2 separate regions of the Homo sapiens genome follow, and region 1 is linked to region 2. The links come from fine-mapping of genetic effects on gene expression. Tissue or cell type: cerebellar hemisphere. Region 2 holds a variant in brackets; the other region holds the start of a gene. All regions are shown on one strand. Distances are from middle to middle.

Region 1 (8,093 bases), 26 kb before region 2:
GAATAGGCTGTGAGTTATGAATCAAGGCTTATTTATTTGCGTATTATAATCAATGAGCCTATATTGACATATCATTATCACTGCAAGTTCATAGTTTACATTATGGTTCATTAGGTGTCGTACATTCTGTGGGTCTGGACAAATGTATAATGACATGTACCCACTACTGTAGTGTCATACAGAAGCATTTCACTGCCCTAAAATCCTCTGTGCTCTACCTGTTCATCTTTCCCTCCCCCACGGATCTCTTTACTATCTCCATAGTTTTGCCTTTTCCAGAATGTTGTTGGGGTGATCAGACCCAACACCAGGTCGTGGGGGCGACGAAGTCCAGCAGAGTCAAAAGAATGAGAAAAAGACAGTTTGAGAGAGAAAGTGGGACCAGGGGACCATCGTGAGTGTGGAGGCTGCCAAGGCCCCGATTTCTGGGCGTCCATGGCTGCTTATTGGTGCTCAAACAAACAAACAGGTGGTGAAGATGTGGGGGTTGACAGGAAACAGTGTATCAAGTGAATGGCTGCTTGAAATAATGGGTGTGCTAGAAGCAAGGAGCCAGCAAGTCTAGCAGACATGGAAGCCCTGCCTCAGCTGCTCTCCCAACACTCAGCTTTTCTCCCAACATGTGCTCTACCTGTTCATCTTTCCCTCCCCCACAGATCTCTTTATTATCTCCAAAGTTTTGCCTTTTCCAGAATGTTATATAGTTGGAACCATCACTTACATACTATCAGTATGATCTTTTTCAGATTGGCTTCTTTCACTTAATATAATAATACACATTTAAGATTCCTTCATGTTCTCTCTCACTTCTCTCTTCTCTCTCCTTTCTTTCAGACTGAGTCTCACTCTATCGCCCAGGCTAGAGTGCAGTGGCACAATCTCAGCTCACTGCAACCTCCACCTCTGGGTTCAAGCAATTCTCGTGCCTCACCCTCCCAAGTAGCTGGGATTACAGGTGCCCACCACCACGTGTGGCTGATTTTTGTATTTTTTAGTAGAGATGGGGTTTCACCACGTTGGCTAGGCTGGTCTCGAACTCCTGACCTCAAGTGATCTGCCCACCTTGGCCTCCCAAAGTGCTGGGATTACAGGCGTGAGCCACTGCGCCTGGCTCCTGCATGTCTTTTAATGGCTTGATAGCTCATTTCTTGTTAGTGGTGAAGAATATTTCATCATCTGCATGTACCACAGTTTATTTATCCATTCACCTACCAAAGAACATCTTGTTTGCTTCCATGTCTTGTCAATTCTGGGTAAAGCTACTATAAATGACTATGTGTAGGTTTTTGTGTGGATATACATTTTCAACTCATTTATATAAATTCCAAGGAGAGTGATTGCTGGATTATATGGTAAAAGCATGCTTAGTTTTGTGGTAGTTTTTGTTTTGTTTTGTTTTACATTTAGATCTTTATCTGGAATTTCTTTTTATGAAAATATGAGGTAAACTTTCCTCCTAAATGGATAGGCATTTGTCCTGACATCATTTATTGCATCCATTTTTTCCTAGTGGTTGGAAAGCATCATCCACAGACTAAATCATGCAAGGTAACTGTGTGAGCCTGGACAAGTTAGTTAACATCTCTGTACTCCAGGTTTCTCACCTGGCAAAGGGGTTAACAATAACTGCTTACAGCATTGGTATGAAGGTAACATGAGGCAATGGGCATGGACACATTTGAAAAAGTAAAAATCCCGTATCCCTGAATCATCTGTATATGGGTGAAGATAACATGACTCTTTCTGAGGCTGTGAACACACTTGCTCATCTGAAAAGCCATCCAGATCCATCAAAGAATTCTCAAACCATTGGTCACATTTGAAATGTAGATGCCAATGATCCATATTTTCAGGGGATTTGCGTGTGGGCTTCAGTAGAAGGGAAGAGAAGGCTAGTGAAGGAGTAACTAGTAGGTAGCCATGGATGAATTATCAGTTTGGGTACCCTGTGGTCCTATAGACTTCAAGAGGACATAAATACCACTTGTTAGACTGTGAGTTCCTTGAGGGCAGAGTGCTTGTGTCGAATTTGTCTTAAAAATCACAGAGCCTGATTAGAAAGCTTCCAGTTAAGTTTCAATGAATTAAACTAAATTTTCTCCATTAGGACTCACTGGGAAGAGAAGAAAAAGGAAGTCTAAGGAAAATGGAATCTCTCATCTGGCCTACCCTTGCTTCCAAATACTTGGTACTCTTGTAAAGAATCCAATTTACAGCCAGTTGCTATCAAGTATAATTAGTGAAAACGATCCTTTTTCTCAGTAAATGGCAGCTTTCTTGGTATAGTTGCCCTGTGCCTTGCTGCAACTTGGCAGCTCAGACCCACCAGTGGGGAACAGTCTGGGAGCCCTGTGGGGTGGCTCTGGAGCTGCTGATGGAAGGCACAGGAATCAGGGCTTGCTGAACTTAAGGTTCAGGCTGCTTTCCCTGCAATAGGGTCAGCCAGCAGGGAGCAGGCAGGTCTGTGATGCAAGCAGAGAAGGTGGGATTGTGCCCACTGGGGAAGGGGGCTCTTGCTCTACCAAAGAGGAGGCTGGATGCCATGGTGCAGAATCCTCTGGGGTCTTGGCTCCTACTTGTCAACCACTAATTAATTTTTAGGTTTACAATTGATGTTTTCTTATCCAAGGACATCTGGTATACAAAAGTTCCCCTAGCTTAAAATGTTTAGTATTCTCTGAATAGCTTTCCTCTGTTCCCTAAGAAAGAGGCTTCCTCAGCAGCTGTGCTGCAAAAGACCCCAAATGTATTGCACATCCGAAGAGTGGCTAAGTGGGAGGTGAAGGGTGGGTACAGGGGTCTGTTGTAGGCACTGTCCTCCTCTGGGCTCCTTTGACATTGGCCTGGTGGCTGGGATACTTCAGAATAAAGGCCTAGTGGGTCACAGGTTTAGGAGGAGTTGGGGCTGGTCCCTAGGCCACTATAGGTGGTGGGCAAACATTGTAGAAGGCCTAATGTTTAGAAAGCCAGTGTGGAATTCTCCTTTGTGCAACTGCGTCACTGAATCAATTGGGATTTTTTATTGGTGAATGGACACTTGGAAGTTTTAATATGCAAAACATAATTTACTTTTATTACTTAAATTGCTTAATGTAATTTTAATATGCAAGACTTAATTTACGAAGAGCCAGGATTCCGGGTGTTTAAATCCTTGTCTCCAGGGAACACAGCTGTCCCTTTGAGGAAAACCTAATTTCTCTTCCCTGCCTGTGTGACTTTGGGACAAATCTGGGACAACAGTGAATTCTCTATTACTGTTATTACCACCCAAGTAAACTAAAAATCCGGGATGAGAAAAATCTTACAGAAAATTCTAGCTGAGGCTTCTAGCTTATAGTACAATGAATAGACCTTAATCATAGAATGCCTTTAAGAAAAACATTTAGGCCCGACTTGGTGGTTCACACCTGTCCTGTAATCCCACCACTTTGGGAGGCCGAGGCGGACAGATCTCTTGACCTCAGGAGTTTGAGACCAGCCTGGGCAACAAGGTGAGATCCTGTCTCTACAAAAAATACAAAAATTAGCCTGGTGTGGTGGTGCCCGCCTGTAGTCCCAGCTACTCGGGAGGCTGAAGCGGATGGATCGCTTGAGCCCGGGAGGTGGAGGCTGCATTGAGCTGAGATTGCGCCACTGCACTCCAGCCTGGGTGACACAGCGAGACCCTGTCTCCAAGTAAACAAAATAAAATAAAATAAAGAAAAATATTCAAAAAGCCCTCGAGGTTTTTTTGTTTGTTTGTTTGATTTTTTTGATACGGAGTCTTACTCTGTTGTCCAAGGTGGGGTGCAGTGGCACAATCTCGGCTCACGGCAACCTCTGCCTCCTGGGCTCAAGCGATCCTACCGCCTTAGCCTCCCCAGGCATGCGCCACCACACCCGGCTGAATTTTTCTTTTTTCTTTTCTTTTTTTTTTTTTTTTGAGACGGACTTTCACTCTTGTTGCCCAGGCTGGAGTGCAATTGTGCAATCTCGGCTCACCACAACCTCTGCCTCCCGGGTTCAAGCAATTCTCCTGCCTCAGCCTCCCGAGTAGCTGGGATTACAGGCATGCTCCACCATGCCCGGCTAATTTTGTATTTTTAGTACAGACAGGGTTTCTCCATGTTGATCAGGCTGGTCTCGAACTCCCGACCTCAGGTGATCCGCCCACCTCGGCCTCCCAATTCTTTTTCTTTCTTTCTTTCTTTCTTTTTTTTTTTTTTTTTTTTTTTTTTTATTTTGTATTTTTTATGGAGATGGGGTTTCGCCATGTTGCCCAGGCTGGTCTCGAACTTCTGGGCTTAAGCGGTCCGCCCGCCTCGGCCTCCCAAAGTCTGGGATAACAGGCTTGGGCCACCGCGCCCGGCCGAAGCCTGAACTGTTTATCAGTTCAATTATTTTTGCGGAATTGAACCGAACCGAATGGAATGGGAGCTTGCAGAGAGCTTCTACTCAAAGCAGTTCCTAAGGTTGATGGGGTGGAAGGAAATAAACAGAACAGCTATTGGCGTGGCCGAGTCGCTACGGACGGGGAACCCGAGCCGCTCGCGCAGGCGCAGAGCCAGGCCCGCGAGGGGATGGGAAGGTGGGGGGGAGGGGCGTTCCCTGGGCCCTGCCCCTCCCTGCCCTGCTTTAGTTCCAGGTACCGCCACTGGGGGCGGCCGCGGCCTCCCCAGCGGCAACGGCCACGAAGCTGCGCGGCCCTGGTTTCCAGCCGGGCCCTTTTCGCGGCCGGGCCCCAGCATGGCTGCCCCCACGGCTGAGGGCCTGGCAGCTGCTGCGCCCTCGCTTTCTTGACATTCCCTGGCTTCTGTGCTCTCTTCCCCAGGCCACCCCAGCAGACATGTTTGCCAAGGCCTTTCGGGTCAAGTCCAACACGGCCATCAAGGGGTCGGACAGGTGAGGGAGGAAAGGGGCCTGCTCTGCCACGGAACAACCAGACACCTCTTGGGCCCCGCTGGCCCATAGCCCTCGCTATTCTTGGCCGACATCCTCGGGTGGAGGCCGAGGGGTATGCCAGGGAAGGGACCCCAGGAGGCAAGGGTGGGTTAGACACATTTTGAGGTGAGGATGGAGGGGGACCTGGCTCTCTTTTGGATAGTCTAGTGAGTTTAAAAGAAAACGTAGTTAAGTCAGAGTTTACTGACTGCAGACTATTTAAGGTGTTGTGGAGAATGCAGAAGTGAAGGAATACAGAATTCTTGCCCTCCAAAGAGCTTAATGCCCCTTGGGAGAGATCGGATGGGATACCAAGAATTAAAAGTATAAGAGAAAAAAATGACTAGTGATTAATTCTGGCAGGAGAGACAGCTGGAAACTGAGGTGGGAGGGAATAAGGCACATGTGGTAAGAAGAACTGTATCTGTTCAGACAGGGTCACAAATGGAGATTGTGTTTGGAATTTTGTAACCAGTGCTTTATAGTTGTCTATAGGTCTCATGGCATAGTTATTTAATCATAAACTGGCATATTTGCGAAGCATGTATGAGAAAGGAGTGGGCCCAAGGGCTAGGCATGAAGTCAGGAAGGCAGGGCTGTTTCCTGTGTCAGGCTAACTTGGATTGTTCACTGGGCCTGTTTTCCCACCCATAAAATGGGAAGGCATACCCCAGGAATGAGTGAAAATAGATGACAATGGATGAAAAAGAGTTTAGGATGTTTCAGAAGAGTGTGTGTGAGACTAGGACATCATAAACCAGGCAATCTTTCTTTGGCCCTTGTGATTTTATAGTGAGCACTTTTGAGTTCGTTCTTGATATTTATTAAAAGTCTGTCCAGGCAGCATTCACAGTGCTGGTGTGCTTTCCACAGGAGAAAGCTTCGAGCTGATGTGACAACTGCTTTCCCCACCCTTGGAACTGATCAAGTCTCTGAGTTAGTACCTGGAAAGGAGGAGCTCAACATTGTGAAGTTGTATGCTCACAAAGGGGATGCAGTGACTGTGTACGTGAGTGGTGGTAACCCCATCCTCTTTGAACTGGAGAAAAATCTGTATCCAACAGGTATGACAACAGGACGAAGATGGCCATTACCATTAGGTAGTTCTTGCCTAACATCTGCTTCTCTCTGTTTCTTCCATTGTCTCCCATAAAATAAGCAAGCACGAAATCTCCCAATACCATCCCCAAGGATCTTTATGGACCTGGTGTTCCTAGAATTGGGTCTTTCAATTCTAGGATGCAAAAGGTTTTCTCTTATGCAAAACCACTATAGGAGGGATTAAAAAAAGGGCTGACATAGTAAGTAAGGGTGGTTGCAAAGGGAAGTTCTGAGATGAAGGAACAGTGGCTGAGAAGTTTACAGTGGGTTGACTAGGAATAGAGCAGAGGTCTTGAAAAGGATGGAATTTCAGGGCATGTCTTCATGAGACAGAGTCTTGCTCTGTTGCCCAGGCTGGAGTGCAGTGGCGCAATCTCAGCTCACTGCAAGCTCCGCCTCCTGGGTTCACACCATTCTCTTGCCTCAGCCTCCCGAGTAGCAGGAACTACAGGCACCCGCCACCACACCTTGCTAATTTTTTGCATTTTTTAGTAGAGACGGGATTTCACCATGTTAGCCAGGATGATCTTGATCTCCTGACCTCATGATCCGCCCGCCTCGGCCTCCCAAAGTGCTGGAATTACAGACGTGAGCCACCGCGCCTGGCCAAAAATATATATATTTTTTAGAGACAAGGTCTTACTCTGTCACCCAGGCTGAAGTGCAGTGGTGTGATCGTAGCTAACTGTAACCTCAACCTCCTGTGCTTAAGGGATCCTCCCACCTCAGCCTCCTGTGTAGCTGGGACTACAGGCATATGCCACCATGTCTGGCTACGTTTAAAATTTTTGGTAGAGACAAGGTCTCACTATGTTGCTCGGGCTGGTCTTGAACTCTTGAGCTCAAGTGATTTTCCTGCCTCAGTCTCCCGAAGTGTTGGGATTACAGGCATGAGCAGGGTGCCCAGCCTAAAAAATGTTTCTTAAAACTATCTGTAGCAGGATTTTCCTAAAATACTGAAAAGATATACTGTGATAGGAATAAAGCTGGATTGATAAGCTACATATCCAGCTGTTTTCATGGTGTACTTTAACCATAGGTCTCACAGGGATTTTTTAGGCTATGAGTGGCTCTCTAGGATTCTTTGCCTTCTCTGTCACAAATCTCAGGGACTCAGTCTCCTTTTCTCTTTTCCATAGCTGCTGACACCTACTTTGTAACTTGGGGCTTTTCATCCTCCAGGGTTGTCTGCAATAGTGCAATGCAATATCCTTAGGCCACTCCTGCCCCTGATCTCACTTCCTTGCTGTACCTGAAGACAACCACAATGCTTTTTGACCTAGGGGTTTTTGCTGCTAATCACTATGGAAACAGAGGGGATAAAAATGATAAACATGGGAAAGTTTCCAAATTTTATACAGCTGGCTTCCTGTTCTTAGGCTACTTGCTTCTGAAGCCGTAAATAAAAGCTTCATTGGTTCTCTGCCCTCACTTTTTTGTCCACTGTGACCATTTTCTGCTGCTGCAATCCGGATGCCTCCAAATCTCAAGTGACACTCAGTTTCTTAGGTTTTTTCCTTCCTCAAAAATGAAACCTCTCTGGGCATCCCCTTACAACCTTCTCTTTAGCTTTGAGTTGAGTTTCTTTCCTGTATTCTAATTAAAGTGACCATAGTGTTAGGTTTTTCCATTTCTCTAGAAGATTGGCTTTTTGGTAGTAGTGTTTTCTGGATCTCTTTTTGTACAGTGTACACGCTGTGGTCCTATCCTGATCTTCTGCCAACCTTTACAACATGGCCTCTGGTGCTCGAGAAACTGGTAGGGGGAGCAGGTAAGAGGATTCTCCTATATTCTGGCTATTGGCTGAAACCTACTTAGCAAAAGCCAACTGATGTAATAAACTTACCCATTTCCTGTGTTTTTGTGGTTGAAAAATGGAATTTTTTCCCCTATGTGTTTTATGTTTCTCACTTGGCTGGTTCCACACAAGATCTCTGGGCCCCTCTGGCCCTGTTGTAAGGCTTAAATAAGTGTTGTGAAAGTATTTTATGAACCACCATGTGCTATACTGTAAATCAATAAGCTGAATTTAGGAAACTAGGACAAGACAGATCATGTTATAGGCTACTCAA
Region 2 (8,103 bases):
ATCAAATTCCCAAAGGGATCACTTGATGCCAGAAAAGTGCAGAACCACTGCGCTGGTCCCTGCTCAGTTTATGGAATCATTTCACTGACTGGATCTCTCCTTGTATAATAGGAGGGAGAACTGGGCTAAATTCCCTGAGTTTTTGGGTTTTACCATTAAGAGACAGTTGCACTTCAGTTTACTTGTTTCTTTCTCTTCTCAGTTTTTCTCAAACTGAGATAAGAAAGGCTTAAAAATATCCACAATATCCACAAATTGCCCGTTTGAGGCTTGAAAAGGAAAAAAGGAATGGGTTTGAAAATGTGTGTGTGGCGCCTCCTACCGTCTGTTATCAGGCCCAGAATAGACCTTTTTACTCATGAGTAAACTCCTTAATTTCACTAATCCTATCTCTACCGGCATGAGCATATGAAACTAGGAAAGGGATTTCCAGAAATTGAGCCTAAACAGGATCCTGTTAAAGCCTTTGGCCTGCCAGAGTCTGATCTGAGGGATTATGATCTGTATAGTAGTAATGAACTATGGTTCCTTATGTGAATACAAGTAAAATATAGCACTGTGCAAAGTTCTTTCACAAACTTGATTTGTTTTGCACGATCTTGAAGGGAGTGGAGGCTAAGAAAGGTCATGTCCCGCCTTGTTGATCTCTGCTGAAGACACAAAGCCAGTAAGTGGTAGGGCTGGGTCTAAAATGAACATCTACCCTTAATTGTGGTTTGACCCACAATTCTGCCATGACACAGTGCTGTCCAGACCTGTGCATTGAGTGGTTTTTCCAGTAACGGTGACACATTTGCATTGAGTCATCTTCCCTCTCCCCCTGTGAACAGCATAGGGACATATTCAAAGGCAGAGTAGAGCCAGACTGTGTAACAGGTTCTTTTTCCTATGTGCTAAGTCAAATAATCTGTATCAATGTCAAACGTACAACTTTGAATTTATTAACCCTATGCTGTAACCATATGAGATTCAATGAAAAGCAGAAAGTGCTTCATTTTTGGACTTTGGCAAAATCATTGAAAGATACATTTCTTGGGGGTTTAGATGAACAAAAATGTTACAGATGTGCCCCATTCTTGGGCAGTTTTAAGGATGCTTGTTGGACATTCATTCATTCTTTGGGCCCCATGTATTGCATTCTATGTGATCAATACTGGAAGGCAGCAAGAATTTCTTTTTAATAATTTAATGTGGTTATTTCCATGATTACTGAGATGTTCCTTTGATGAAAGTCAGAGAACTCAAGTGAAAGGACTGTTTGTTTTGGTCATTTGATCTAGCCCCCTTCCTCCAGGTGAAGTGATCTTAAACTTTTAAAGATCTATTCCTTTCTACCTTATTTTTAAATAATTCCAGAAGTAGAAGAATCATGGCTCAGCTCAGTAGCCTGTCCTGGTGTCAAATCACCCTTAGCTCCAGAAGGCCCTTCTCTTTCCCACACATCAGCATCTCTGCCTGCAATCAGTCTCCTTGACTCTCTTGCACTGCGGAGACATGGAACAGCTGGTCACCCAGGCAGCGCCCTCCCGCCTACGCATTTGGACAATTTTTCCCAAATTATTTGAACAGTAGCCTTCATTTCTCTGCTCACTGGCAAAAGAAAATCTGACTCCACCAGGAAGCATGTGATCATGTCCATTCTCACCCTCTCTCCCCCGCTCCCAGTGTCCGTAAGATGGTGAAGTTCAAGGGAGACGTTTCTAACATGAGTCATTTTTGCAACAGGCTTTTATTACTTTTTTTTAAAACCCATATAAGAAAGACATTTAAAAAGAAAATATCCTGGAAACAAACACTTACACACTGAGCAACACAACCAAAGAAGGCACTACCAGCAGTTACTCCCACCTCTGGGAGGGAACGGGTACTCGATACTATACTTTTTTCAGAGGTTTAGACCTCAGCATAGGCCTTGGGTCTAACTGTGCTTTAGTAAAGTCTGAATTGTCCAATAATTTTCTCATTTCATAAACACCCTTATCTCTTTATATATAGCTATATGCCTTTATGTGTATATATACATGACTTTTTTTTTCCTTCTCAAAAATAAAATAGCCATCCCCATAGAGGGAGGTTCTCAGCAGCATTCACAGCGGTTGCAGCAGGAGCCATGCCTTCTATTAATGTTAGAGACATGCAGGACGAAGGAAAATGACTCTCCACCTGCTCCCTTTAATATACAGCAGGGAGAGAGTTTCTAAAGGGAGGGAAGTGATAAGGCTGAGCATGAGATGGCTAACCAGGGTTTTTGTGGTTTAAAAAAATCTTAGAGTTGCGAGCTTGTGTTGCCTTTGAAGCTCTGGAGACTATGCACAGTTCATACGACGAGGGGTCAGCATTCCTTCTGGGATCAGGGGCAGTATGGACTCAGCCTGGGTCAGAGAGGGAACTTCTGAAGCTACACGAACAAGCTTGGGCTTGAACCGACCCAAGAGGGACTTGGGAAGGCAGAGGATAGCAAAGAAATGGTTTCTCAGAGGCTGGGTTGGAAAACCAGCCCTGCTTTGAAAATTACAAGTCCTTCTCCCTCTGCACTGGAGTGTCTCTGCAGTCCTGGCTACTTGTTGGAATTTTTTGACTAATTTATTTTAGGATTCAGCCTAAACAAGAAGCCAGTGCAAATGTAAGTCAGGAATTTGATCCTCCCTGTCAATGTGGTCTGGTATCACTGATTGGAGTCAAAACTCAGGCACCCAGATGGGAGGGAGGTCTGTGACCCTCAACCCATACTGAACGCGGGCTCTCCTGGCCTTGTCTCCCACACCGCCGCCATTGTTCACTTCCTGGCAGGAGAAGCCAGCAGCAGAGCTTCAGGCAAACTCGCCCTACTCCTATTTCTCTCTGAAAACAAAAAGGCACTGAGGTCGACGGGGAGGCCAGGCCCACCGGCTCTCCGAGCGCAGTGCCGGGTCTGGCCCATGCTTCAAAACAGAAAGGACTCCAAGTTGGCCGAATTGGAGGCTCCCCTCTCTGTAATCAAGGCAACTCCTTGGGCAGCACCTGGAGATCCCAGAGTCGCAGTGGGAGGAGGGAGGCAGTGCTGGAGGCCGATGGGGAACCCAAGTAGCCCAGGCCCTCCTCTGCTCTTTAGCTGGGGAAGGCTGAAGACAGCTTGGACACCTTTCTCTGCATTGCTTTTTGGCTTTCTCTTACTGTCTGATTTCCATACTTAGCAGGAGACTTTTTAAATGGTCAATGACTGGCTTCCCTTTGGGGAAACACATGACGATGATGACAACATTAAATTCAAATTTGTAACTTAAAAACGAACAGTTTGTTGACAAAGATGTGACTAAGTACCACACATACGCAGATATATGCCTTTGGGTTTCCATGTGCAATGTGGGCCAGGGCCAGAGCCAGGGCCAGGGCAGGCTGCAGCTTCTCTGGAGATCTCTGAGCCAGCCTCAGCTTTGGTGCTCCTTACCCTGAGCATCTGGGGCCAGTAGCTTTATAAACTTCCCTTAAGTGTGAACAACAGGCACCTTGGGGCCGCGGGAACAGTCCTTTTATGAGCATTACCCTGCTTTCAGGGGCTTAGCTCAGACCTGCAAAAGGAATGTGCTACAACTTTTCACTCATAAATAATGGTCCTGTACGTGGCAAGTAAGAGAACTCAAAGAGGAATCAATGCCAGAGAAAGAACACACAGCTCTAAAACCTTTCTTCCTTCCTTTGCCGGCTGGTGTGAGGTTCCAGTTTGGTGACGAGAGAGGCAACTATTTGGTTGGTGAAAGGCTTGCAGATCGAGAGAGGACGTCAGCTGTTTGTTTCACATGAGTTCTGATCCTTGGCAGAATCTGTGGTGGGGCACAGCCTGGGGGCGGGCACAGCTGAACCCTCGTGCAAACACTTGTCCATGGAAGAGACTTTTGCCACAGCTGGAACTGCTGGGCAGGCACAAATGCACCTGCCAGAGATGTCCTGAGAAAAAGTGTCTGTTGCAAAATAATAATTAATAATACAAATAAATCTGAATGCACCAGGAGGAGAGGAAGCAGGACCGGTTACCCAGGTTTGCCCTGGGATTCTCTTAAGGCCTCCTCCAGTTTCTGCCTAAACTTGTCATACTTCTTTTGCACTTGTTGGATTTTGTCCTGCTCCTCTTTTTCCAGGATTGTTAGGAAGTTCTGAAGTTCAGGGATGGAGAAGGCATCCCACTGTGAGGCGAGAGGGAGATTTGTGGGAAGAAACAGAATAGGAGACAGGTTAGAAGTTGACACGACCTGAGAGACCCTGCTGCCTTCCCCTTCCCAGTTCACATCCGTGATTCACACACAGTTTGCTACTGAACAGACTGAATCAGCGAAGCCTGGGCTTTGCATGCCTGTCATAGCAGCAA[C/T]AAAATTCCAAATGCTGGCATCTCATGACCAAGAGTTGCCAGTCTATGAACCATGTTTTTATTTTGAAACTCAATAATCTTAAGTTTCTGTGTAGCAGCCGAGATCTTGACAGTGATGCTGGAACCACCCAGCCTCCCAACATGCAGACCCTCAGAAAGCAGGTGGAGGAGTGGAACGTGGACTCAGGAGACCGGGGTTGGGCCTGACTCCACCTCTCCCAGCAGTGTGACCTCGAGCACAGCTTTCCACCCTTCTCAGCCTGTTATCTGCTGGGAAATTGGGGTATCTACCTCCCATGACTGGCAGAGCAGATAATGAGAGCCTGACTGGCCCAGGCCTACCCCTAAAGGACTTGGCCTCTGATGGCAGAAGGCAATTTGGACTTCCATCAGGCTGACCCAAGAGCACAAGCCCTGTGCGGCCAACAATTGAGACTCCTAAGCTCTTTGAGCACAATAGAGTACTAAGGTTTATCTGGTTTGGTCCTCGCTATGGATAAGTGAGAAACCTCAAGTCCACACAGGGAAGGTGGCGTAATCACAATCACAGAGCTCATTGCAGCAGAACTGGAACTAGAGCCCAGGTCTCCACACTTCAAAGTGCCTGAGCTTTCCACAGGGCCAGCAGCATTCAGCTACTGTCCATGGAGTACTTTTTCCAAACATATTCTGCACAGATGCCAATAAAGAAAGCAGATGGGAGCAGAGCGGCCCTTGCTGAAATGGGGAGAAGGGACAGAGTCCCAGCTGCCTTGATCCCTAAATCTCCGCAGTGACTCCCAAAACTCCTTAAAACTCTAGGCCTCCACTGAACACAGTGTGACAAACACTGAGACCTTCCCCTGTTGGTCATTCTCAGGCCATGGGTGGCACCGGCCTGGTTTTACTCCAGTTTATGCCACAAGACTACACACTGGTTAGCTCCCCTTGGGGGATGGAGGTCAAGAAAAGGGAGGACAAATGGCTCAAAAACGTCTATACCCAGTGGAGCCCAGAGATGGAGCTTGGTAGCCCTCGGGCCATTTTGAAGCAAAAACAGCCTGTGCCTGAGCACAGGGAGTTTCTTGGTCCCCCTCCTCCCTGAGTTTTCAGAAATAAAGCACATGAAATCCTTTCTTTCCACAGGCCTTGCCACACACAGGCCCTAATGTGCTACCCCAGGGTGTTCAGAGTCCTGGCTGAAACACTGACCCCCAGGCCCATCACCCACCCCTGCTCACTCTCTCAACAGTCACCTTCCTGCCCGTGCTGCGTGGCTCCCACCTATGTGAGGTAGTTAGGACAACACCCACCTGCACCCACCCAGGGTGCCCTAAGGCCTGGGTTTGCACAATGGGTCCAGACCTACCTCTACCTCTCCAGTTTCATTCTCCTTTAGCACAAAGCTGAGGACCTCCGTGTCAGGCCCAGCAAGCAGGCGCAGGTAGAGGGGGCGGTCAGCAATGGAGAGTTTCTGGAAGAGCACTGCAAACCAAGAGAGGGTGCTGGGAGCTCTTCCCAGAAAAGAAGGGCGGGGCCCAGGCTTGCGGGAAAGGATTGGAAATGCAGAGGTGGGGTACGTACAACTGGAAGTAGACACGGGCCTTTTAATGAAATGAACATGACAGTAATGAACAGGGCAATAACCTTTTATCTTGGGTGTCTGCTCAGAGTTTAAAGCATGATTCCATTCACATCATCTCCTGAAAGATTAGGAATGGTGGGGCAGATTCCTCCCATTGCACAGATCAGGAAATGGGAGCCTAGGGTGTGGTTTTCCTGAAGTCACATGCAGAGTCAGGGACTCTGCTCTTGCCTCCCTGCCCGGATTCCACAGATCTGAACACCACATGGGCAGCTGGACCCCTGGTGCTCAGGAGAAGCCCACAGCTCCCACCCAAGGCCGGCAGGAGTTTTAGTGGGTGGGCTTGGACACAGGTAGGAAGGGAACGGTCTGGTTGGGTTCACTCTTTCTCCTACCTTGTCCGTCCTTGTGTATCCGCTTAAAAAGTGCAAACTTCTGGGGATTGTCCACAACCATGAACTTCTTGAGCAGCCCCTGGATGACCTCACTGACGGTGGTGGTGCTGCTGATGTGCAGCTGCTTGATGGCATCTAGGGGCAGGTAGAAGGATGTCCGCTTGTCCGTGGTAGCCGCCAGGTTCACCTCCTTGATGGCATCATAGATGGACTGGGGCCGGATCCCAGCAGGCACCGTCACAGGCCGCCGGAGTTTCAGATGCACTTTGATGAAACCCGTGTAGGTGCCGTCTTCACTCTGCCAGCGGGGGCATGTCACAGGGGGTCAGGGCCGTCCGCCTTGCATGATCATATCTGCCACTCGGGGCCATTGCCCCAGCAGCACCCACCTGTCTCCTTGAGTTCTTTCCTGCCTCTGCTGACGTGGGAGAGCTGGAGGAAGGAGCAGAGATCCCTTTCCCCATAGTGGGCTGGGAGAAGACCCTCAGGATCCAGCTACCAAAGAGGACCTGTGGGGCTGCAGTGGATTTCCCTCCCAGGAGGCTCAGGCCAGCTCCCTAAACCTCCTGTAACCAGTTGCCTTTGGTGAGTGCCCATTGTAAGAGGCAGGGTGTGGGGTAGCCACTCTAGTTTGTACCTCTGAACCAGGCAGGAAGCAGGAAGGCTCTATAATGAGGGCCTTGGAGAACCAGCCCACTAGATTTCCTCCTGTATCTCTTTACTAAGAAACAGCCTTTAAGACTTAAACCTAGGTGCATTTGTGACTGGATTTTCTGGTGCTCCATCTGGCTGAACCCCAAAGAGCCAGCTGATGCCAGCCACCAGCAGGGGGCAGTGTTTTTCTACCTTCTCCCCTCCCTATTGAAGACAGCCTTTCCCAACTGGGTGCTAAGTTGGGTGCCCTCCCCTCTCTGAGAGAGTATGTCCCTCTCTCACAATCGAAGGGGTAGGAAGGGGAGCAACTAAGTCCCATTGTCCTGGCTCCCTGGAGGCCAAGCAATACTGGGCCCTTGGTCATTACGTACCGTTTAATCACTTAGTTTACACTGAAGCTCAGAGGAGGAGTTAAAAGAGCTTCCCAAAATCACAAGCAAAAAATGAGAGTCAGATCTATTTCCCTAAAGCACATGGAGGCCACTGAGGGCTCTGGCTATCAGCCTTCCAGACCCCGGAGGCCTCTGGAGGCCGGAGGAAAGGGAGGGGACCTGCCAGGGAGTAGCCACAGAATTCAGAGTGAGGGCAGAGGCGCCAAACCCGAAGCGGGTGGTGGAGCAGGGGCCAGGTTGAGGGTGGACGGGCGCTTACCAGTTTCATGCCCAGGCAGTTCTTCTCTCGCGTGTTGTAGCTGTCGATCTTCTGCTTGATCTCCTGCAGTGTGGGCGGGCGCTGTGTCTCCTCCACAGGTTTACAGACATTCTGGAAGAGACACAGAAGTGGAGGTGGATGTGTAGTAGTTCTCAGGGTGAGAAAGGGAACAACCACGCCCTCCCCAAAGCCTCTCTAACCAAGAAGTGAGCATCCAGCCCTGCAGAGTGGAACTAACTGCACGGACTCGGAGTGAGACAATGAGAGGTCAAATTGCAGCTGTGCCAGTGTCTAGCCAGCCCTCCTGGAGAAGTAACTCAGATTTCTCTAAGCCTCAGTCTCCTCATCTGTGAAATGGGAACAATACCTACTGCACAGGCTTGTCTTGAGATTAGTGTGAAAGCGTCTGGCACTCAGGCACTGACTATGAATCTGGTGAATGAGCAGAGCCGCATTTGCTTATGGAAAGCTGCTATGGAAAAGATGCTTCTTTGATG

Evidence for each region. PIP is the estimated chance that this variant, and not a neighbour inherited with it, causes the effect.
Region 1: it holds the start of EIF2D, and the variant in region 2 is fine-mapped to the expression of EIF2D in cerebellar hemisphere (GTEx, PIP 0.92).

Annotation. Positions count from the first base shown.
Region 1 is chr1:206,609,075-206,617,167 of GRCh38, reverse strand. EIF2D (eukaryotic translation initiation factor 2D) reads left to right here and starts at 4,703. Exons shown (of 15, transcript NM_006893.3): 1 at 4,703-4,881; 2 at 5,794-5,984; 3 at 7,709-7,792. The coding sequence starts at 4,826. RefSeq lists a silencer at 4,441-4,650 and enhancers at 4,941-5,010, 7,421-7,480, 7,521-7,620.
Region 2 is chr1:206,582,883-206,590,985 of GRCh38, reverse strand. It overlaps RASSF5 (Ras association domain family member 5), which reads right to left. Exons shown (of 6, transcript NM_182663.4): 3 at 7,607-7,717; 4 at 6,302-6,599; 5 at 5,691-5,806; 6 at 1,538-4,160. The coding sequence ends at 4,008. It also overlaps a transcript of EIF2D not described here. Among named protein-coding and RNA genes, the nearest start is that of EIF2D, 26 kb to the left of the region's middle. RefSeq lists an enhancer at 2,387-2,887. The variant C/T (reference allele first, on the strand shown) is at 4,343.